2 linked regions of the Homo sapiens genome follow. The protein of the gene in region 1 interacts with the protein of each later gene in a pairwise test. Each region holds a gene or a part of one and is shown on either strand. Other genes may lie near its edges. The genes, in order: PIN4 and FRMD1.

What was found.
Region 2: the proteins of PIN4 (region 1) and FRMD1 interact in a two-hybrid assay, tested with the Homo sapiens proteins (one large-scale study listed by BioGRID and IntAct).

Annotation. Positions count from the first base shown.
Region 1 is NC_000023.11:72,180,262-72,184,624, forward strand, and holds the start of PIN4 (peptidyl-prolyl cis-trans isomerase NIMA-interacting 4), read left to right. Parts: upstream 1-1,524; coding exon 1,525-1,567; intron 1,568-4,363.
Region 2 is NC_000006.12:168,058,693-168,062,499, reverse strand, and holds part of FRMD1 (FERM domain-containing protein 1), read left to right. Parts: intron 1-518; coding exon 519-693; intron 694-1,442; coding exon 1,443-1,739; intron 1,740-3,311; coding exon 3,312-3,376; intron 3,377-3,807.

The sequences.
Region 1 (4,363 bases):
AAATGTGTCCAGAATTTAAAGCAGCCAAACATAAGAGGGCTCCATGTTATGTCTTGAGTAGGGAATGAGCACAGTCTCAGAAACACCTGATTCCCTGGTATGAGCATGAAGCATCTCCAGGTCCAGCAAGGCTGCATCCAAAAACTAAACTCTGAGCTGGAAGACCTCTATATTCTGGCTGGTAGTGGCAAGCTAGGACAGCTCTCTCATGGACTGGAGGAAACGCCCTGACATATCATATACAAATTATTGATGGTGGGAGGGATTGTAAGGGGAGAAAAAGTGTGTGGGCACAAATTCAAAAATCATTTATCTTAGGCAAACATTATTAATATGAGCAAGCCATCATTTTATGTGCTTTACAGATATGAACTTGTTTAATTCTCTTAACACCTGATAGGATAATAGTAGGTACTATTATCATCAACTCCATTTCACAGATGATGAAACTGAGCCAAAGAGAGGTGAAGTAACTTCCTCAAGGTCATGGAGCTAGTAGACAGATGTGGAGCAGGGATTTGAAACTGGGCAATCTGGCTCCAGAATCCATGCTTTTACTACACTATGCTGCACCATTATGGAAATTTTGGAAAATACACAGAAACAAACACGATGACCTGTATGCACTAGCACCACTGGCCACATCTTGCTCTATAGCTTTCCTCTCCTTTATATTCATATAACATACAATACATTACATATACTTCTTTTACAAGGAATCATATTCTTTATCTTGGTCTTAAAAACATTTCCCCTATCTGTACACACAGCCTTACAATCGTTATTTTGAATGTTGTATAATATCTTCTTGTGTGGCTAAAACATTATTTAAGCAGTACCCGACTGAGGAGCACTCAGACTGCTTCCAATGTTTCTCCATGACTGAGCTCTGCAAGACGCAAAAAGGTGACAGGCTTTTTTAAAAACTACCTTTTGAACCTAATTAGCTACAACTGCAGAATAAAATTAACAAACGAAAAACTGCCAGGGAGGGCAGCCCTGTGTGTAGGAGGAGACAGCGGAAGTTGGCCGCCACCACAGTACTCCTGCTTCCCTTTGTCTGGCGGCCCCGCGGGATTGGCCAGAGCTGGCGCCGAGGGACTGCAGAGCCACCCACCCCCGTGGCTCCTACTGCGCACGCGTGAAAAAAGCCAGGTTGAGGGGAACGGGGGAGCTTCGGGCGTAGAGTGTGGGGAGTGGGGGATCTGGTGCAAATTAGGGTGCGTGAAAGAAGTCACAAAAAGCGCAGAGGCCAGGCTTCCCGCCCTAATCCGGCCTTTGTCTCCGCCCCTCTGCCTTTGTTTCGGCCCAAGCGTCTTATTGGTCAGACATCTTCAGCCCCATTGGTCCAAGAGCCAAAGGACGGGGTCTGCCCCAAGCTGTGCCTGCTTCCGGAGCCGCAATAAGAACGGTCAATTGAGATGCGGCTTTCAGGCATTTGTTTAGGACATGCCCATGGCGGGGCTTCTAAAGGGGCTTGTACGGCAACTGGAGCGGTTCAGCGTTCAACAACAAGCTTCCAAGATGCCGCCCAAAGGAAAAAGTGGTTCTGGAAAAGCGGGGAAAGGTAGAGCGGCCAGAGCGATCAAGGAGAATGGGGGCGGGTGAGGAGCGAAGGGAGGGAACAGACAGTCCATCTCCGGAGTCCGGGACGGACGCAGCAGGTAGCCAGTGGCCCCACAGTGCTGCCATCGATTACATCTGTAGGAATACATTGGGCTACGGTTCAGGGACCGTCCTAGTGGGTAATGGAATCTGATGGGGATAGTTCCTCGGAGGCGATGACTTAGGGCTGCTATTTCAAGGGGTTATTAGAGCTCTAAAATTGGGTCTTATCAAAAGCCAGCAATAGGAAGTACACATTGGTTATGGTCCTTAAAGTTCACTTTAATGCTTACAGAATGACATGCCCACCATCGGGGAAGGAATCATTCATCCATTGAACAGAAATGTGTCAGGCAGAGTGCTAAGCGCTGAGGATACACAAATAAGACAGAAGGCTGGGCGCGGTGGCTCACGCCTATAATCCCAGCACTTTGGGAGGCCGAGGGAGGATGGATCACGAGGTCAGGAGTTCGAGACCAGCTTGGCCAACATGGCGAAACCCCGTCTCTACTAAAAATACAAAAATTCGCCAGGCGTGGTGGTGGTGCGCGCCCGTAATCCCAGCTACTCGGGAGGCTGAGGCAGGAGAATCGCTTGAACTCGGGAGGCAGAGGTTGCAATGAACCGAGATCGCGCCACTGCACTCCAGCCTGGGCGACAGAGCGAGCCTCTGTCTCAAAAAAAAAAAAGAGATTTTGGCCTTAAGGAGCTCCCGAAGTAGTGAGGAAGATAAAGGCTTAGTGATCATAAAGCACTGTACTAAATGTAGTGTTGAGGGATGTGTATGGGATATAATAGAAATTGAGGGAAGTCCTTCATTTAGCTGGGGAACAGGGAACGGAAGACTTCCTGGAGATGAATTAGGCAGGTCAAGATGTGCATTGAGGGTAGGTTAAAGCATTCCTTACTTGGGGTCCAGCAGCAAAAGCACTGAGGTGAGAAACAGCATGATGTGTGCAGCGTAGTGTTGCTGGAGCAAAAACTCAAGGCAGAATGGCAAGTGGTGAGAATGAAAACAGAAACAAAGACGAGATCATGGAGAGTGCTATATATTCTGCTAAGAAGGACAGTTAAGGATCAGAAAGACCTGTAAGGAGATTGTTGTGGTAGTCTTGGTGAGAGATGATGGTGGACTGACCTAAGGGAGTGGCTGTGGGAACTGAGAAAAGAGAAAAGATTCTGTAAATATTAGGATGTGAAATAGTCAAGACTTGGTGATTTATTGGGTTGGGGAGGGGTGGTGAGGGAGGATCAACGATCATTCTGTTTTCTGGATTGGATTTCTAACCTGTTGCTGGTCCTGCAGGGTAACATCAAGGATACATGAGGAGCGGGGATGAGATTGATGAATTCACTTTCAGATAGATTGGCTTTGAGGTGTCTGTGGGACATCTCAGTGGAGATGTAGTCAGGAAGTGGTTGGATATTTGAGTCTAAAGTTTGAGGGAGAGGTCTAGACTGTACATGTAAGTTTTAGGAGTCGCTAACTTATAGATGGTAGTTGAGCCCATTAGAGTGTATGCAATTATCCATGGAGAGTTTATAGAATGAAAAGAGCAGAGAGCAGAGGATGTGATCCTAGGACAGGCAGAGAAAGAGGCAGACAGATAGAGGGAGTGCAGAATGGTGGCCAGAGGCTGGAGAGACCAGAATGTTTTAAAGAGAGAGGGTATAGTCTATCAAGAACAGCAGATTTGGAAATTAGAGGTGGCCTTGGGTAAAAGTGGTTTCAGTGAAACAGAAGCCAGATTACCGTGACTAGAGAACTGACTGGGAAGTGGTAATTTGGACTTCTTGGAAAGTTTTAATTGAAAAGCATGGAAATGGGATGGTAGATAGAGAAGGACAGAGGATTAAGAGAAAGTTTTATTTTCTTTGCTTCTTTGGAATGGGGAAAACTTGGGAGTGAAGCTGAAGGATCCAGTAAAGTAAAAGAGGTAAAGGTACAGAAGAGTGAGATTTAGGAGAAAATGGAATCCAGGACCTAGGGGGAGCAGGGACACCTTATGCTTGAGGTCATAGGAAAGGAGATGGAGGGGCAGGGACTCAGTAGGCATCTTGAGGAGAGTGGTAAAGGTCTGGAATATCGTAATGGAAGAGGGAATGAAACACAAAAGAAGTGCCTTCAGGGCTAGGAGCCTGACTAAGATCAAAGGCCATGAATTTGTAGACTACATAATCTTCACAGTCTGATTTACCTAGTACTATGCAATTGGCACAATATAGGATTGAAAAGAGCTAGGTGCAGCCTTAAGCCATGGTTGAGGTTTTGTTAGGCAGTTATGATAGGAGGATAGCAACACCAGGGAATTACAAGGGCCAGTGGGAATGCAGTTCAGATGAAGGAACATGGGGTCCAGAGTGGGAAGGGAAAAAGAAGTCTGGTGGCCTAGGTGAATGTAGCAGGACGAAGGGACTGGGGTCAAGGGAGAGGTTCTGTGAAGTTAAAGAGCAAGTATTGTGGGAATGAGACATGAGGAAGCTGGAAGAACAGGAGGTTATAGCCAGAGACTGAACTAGTTCTGAGTGGCACAGTTCCATCGTGTGCCCCCGGGGCAGGTAGCTTGGAGTAGAGAGCATGACATTCGGGAAAGAGACCTAGAACTGAGATTCCCCAAGATAGATGGTGAGGTCACTCAAGGTAATGGCAGGAGTGAGGGTGGAGAGGAAGCCCAAAGCTGATGCCAGAGTCGTCAGGAAATCAAAGGCAGTGAGGTGGCAGTCAGAAGATGACAGCATCCAGCAGGGAAGAGGATGG
Region 2 (3,807 bases), on another chromosome or scaffold:
CTGCAGGCGTGGGGTGTTTAGCTGCCCGGTGAGGTCTAGTTGTTGTTATCGCTTGAAAACTTCTGGCTCCCAATTGAGAAAATCAAGGGAGAAAAGAAGAGCAGGTCATAGAAACGCACCTGTGTGGCCTCTGTTCCTCTCATCCCGGCCCCAGAGCTGTCACCCAGGGTCACCCCACAGCCCGGGTGCCGGGGATAAAAGGGCAGTGACTGTGGGGGCTGCTGGACAGCAGGCTTGCTCTGGACAGCCAGACCGAGGTCTTCCTGTCCCACCCCAGACCTCCACTCCCCTCACACTGCTGCGGGCACTTTCTAGCCAGGAGGGCTGTGTCCTCTCAAGCAAGGGCGGAGCAGAGCACAGTGTCCGCGCACAGTGTCCGCCAACAGCCATCTGCACTGCGAAGTGAAAACCTGGGCCTCGTCCCCCTGGGGGCCATGGCTGACATTTAAAATCATCCTTTCCTGTGGCTAGCGTGGTTTTCCACCTGTGGAGTGGCAACTTCTCTCCTGTTTGCTCAGGGAAAGAAGCTGGAGATCCAGCTGGATGGGCTGCCCGCAGCACAGAAGCTGGTTTACTACACGGGGTGCACCTGGCGGTCCAGGCACCTGCTGCACCTGCTGCGCGCCAGCCACCAGCTCCACCTCCGCGTGCGGCCCACTCTGCAACAGCTGCGGCAGCGGGAGGAGGCAGAAGGTGGGGCTGGGCTGGGTATGCTGGGCTCCGCAGCCGGACTGTGCCTTCTGGGCTAGGCTGGGCACACTGGGCTCTGGCCGGACTATGCCTTCTGTCTCTTATTGTTGTGGCCTCCTGACTCCCACGTCCCCCAGATGCTGAGGTCGAAGGGCGAAGTGGTGGCCCCCAGCTCTGCCTGGAGTGGAATTCTATAGATGGGACTGGGGGAAGCTGGGAGCTTGAGGAGCCACCTGAGGTTTCCACTTCTCAGTTTCCTGGTCTGTTTTCCACTTCTCCTCCCATCATGTGCCCACAAAGAGCAAGAAATGCAGGTTCCGACAAGGCCTCAGTGTTTACCCACAGGCCTGGTCTCCCTTCCTGTTCCACATCCTCACCTGAGCACAAGGCCTGGCCTTAGTGTTTACCCACAGGCCTGGCCTCCCTCCCTGTTCCACATCCTCACCTGAGCACAAGACCTGGCCTCAGCGTTTACCCACAGGCCTGGTCTCCCTCCCTGTTCCACGTCCTCACCTTGAGCACAAGGCCTCGCCTCAGCGTTTACCACAGGCCTGGTCTCCCTGCCTGTTCCACGTCCTCACCTGAGCACAAGGCCTGGCCTCAGCGTTTACCCGCAGGCCTGGTCTCCCTGCCTGTTCCACGTCCTCATCTGGGCTGTGGGTGTGCATTTCTGTCTCCCGGGCTCTTCCTCCTGCATCAGCAGGGCTGGTCCCTCTCCAGCTCGCCCTCACTGTGCTCCCCACTCCCCACAGAGAAGCAGCACTACCGGGAGTCCTATATCAGCGATGAGCTGGAGCTGGACCTGGCCAGCAGGAGCTTCCCGGGCAGTGGGGTCAGCAGCCAGCACTGCCCCCACTGCCTCTCACGCCACTCCGCCGACAGCCACGGCAGTTCCTACACGTCAGGCATCAAGGCCAACTCCTGGCTCAGGGAATCCAGAGAGATGTCTGTGGACGTGCCCTTGGAGGTCCACGGGCTCCATGAGAAGGAGCCGTCCTCCAGCCCCAGGACCAGCCGCAGCCACCCCAGCACACGTGGTGACAGCCAAGGTGGGCCCGAGGGAGATGCCCAGGCCTCAGGGACAGTGAGTGTGGTCCAGCCAGCCCCAGCTTGGCTGACCCTGGACACCGAGGCAGCAAAGCCCTGGCCTGCCCTCCAGTGGCCAGACGTGAGGGGCTGGGCTGCTTGTGACCTGAGTCCCAGGAAATGTGCCAGAACATGCCGGAAGAACAGAGATGGCAGGGAGGAGCTGCCTGCAGCCTGCTGTGCCCGAGTCTCCTGTTCCTGCCAAGGGGCAGCTGCAGGCTGGGATCAGAGACAGGAGAGGTGGGATCCTCTTGGGGTTGCAGATGAGTCCAGGTCCTTTAGCTTTCTCGGAAGCCCATCTCAGGAGCCCCTCCCACTCCTAGGAAGCCCCTGGCCCCTAGGAAGCACCCCCCCAACTCCTAGGAAGAACCCCCCTCCCAAGGAATGCTCCCCATCCCGGGAAGCCCCCCAACAAAACTCCTAGGAAGCTCCCCTTCCAGGGAGCCCCTCCCTCTCCCAGGAATCCCATCCCCACACATAGGAAGACCCCCACTCCTAGGAAACCCCCCACTCCTAGGAAGCCCCCCACTTCCAGGAAGCCCCCCATTCCTAAGAAGTCCCCTCACTCCTAGGAAGCCCCCTGGACTCCTAGAGACCCCCCCAACTCTTAGGAAGCCCCCCCCACACTCCTAAGAAGCCCCGTGGACTCCTAGGAACTCCCCCAACTCTTTGGAAGCCTTCTGACTCCTAGGAAGCCCCCCACTCCTAGGAAGCCCCCTACTCCTAGGAAGCCCTGTCCTACCAGCTTCCCTCCCATCAGAAAGCCTGGGTTAGACTCATGTCTTTTTATACTCAGTTGAGTAGGAGTGAGAAGACAGAGCCATTCAGAGTGTTCTAGGACCATGTGTCCACCTGGCCCAGGACGCAGCACCTTGTCCTGAGGGATGCACCCTGCCCATTCCCTGTGTGTAGGACTGTGTGTGCACCTGGCCCAGGATGCAGCACCCTGTCCTGAGGGATGCGTCCAGCCCAGTCCCTGTGTATGAGGCCCTGAAGAGCTTCCTCATTGCCCCAGAAAGGGGACGTGAGCTCTGCTGGTCTCTGAGTGTCCCCACGGCCCTGACGGTGGATGTGATGAGATCAGGTGGGACCAGCCCCAGGGCTCAGTCACCCAGGACCGCCCAGCATCACCTACAGTCACCCAGGGCCATCCAGGGTCACAAAACATCACCTAGGGCCTCCCAGGGCCAGGCATTCCTGTCACTAAGCCACTGTGTCCGCCATTGCCCTTGGAGTGTCTGGTCCACCAGGAAGGGATGGTTGGCCTCCATCTCTGAGGATGTATGCAAGCTCTGTGGCCTGTAACCCAGCGGGAATCACCGTGCTAATCCCGCATCTGCACAGCAAGGGGCCGTTTTATCAGATGTCGGGGAATGGAGCAAAAGCAGTCACCGCACTGAGAGCAAGGGGGCGGTGTGAGCCTCAGGAGATGCCGGTCCGAGACCAGGGCCCCAGAAGTGCAGGGAACTGCCCTGGGGAGGAGCCATGTCGGGCAGAACCCAGACACCTGTGCTCACGGCTGCCTCCTCCCACAGCCACTCGTCAGGAGCCCTGCACCCAGGTCAGGACCAGAGGCCAGAGCGCCGAGGCCGTGCACCAGGTAGAGTCCCCCCCACGGGCCAGAAGCCCTGGCCCTGCTCCTCCACCCCCTTCTCCTAGGTCCCCTGTCAGGGGCCCTGGGGACCTTCCTAGGCCTATCAGAGGGTCCCTCGACTGACATCCCCAGAGACGCAGCGGGCAAGTCAGGGAGCAGCAAGGCTCTCGGGCACTGGGGCAGGTGGACGTGGGTGGAGGCCTCAGCCTCAGGGCCGAGTGAGTCGGCTCACTGTGGGGAGGGAGGGGTCCTGCCTGGGGCTGGGGTGGCCGGGCCCTGAGTGTCACCGGGCCACTGTAGGCAGGACCCGGACACCTGGGCCCTGCAACCTGCCATGCAGCAGACTGGCTGCCCCGTCCCCTTCGTCCACCTCCTCCACCCGGGGCCTAGTGCTGTGTGTGCAGGGCTGCTCCAGGCTTCCCCCACTTCCTGTAGAG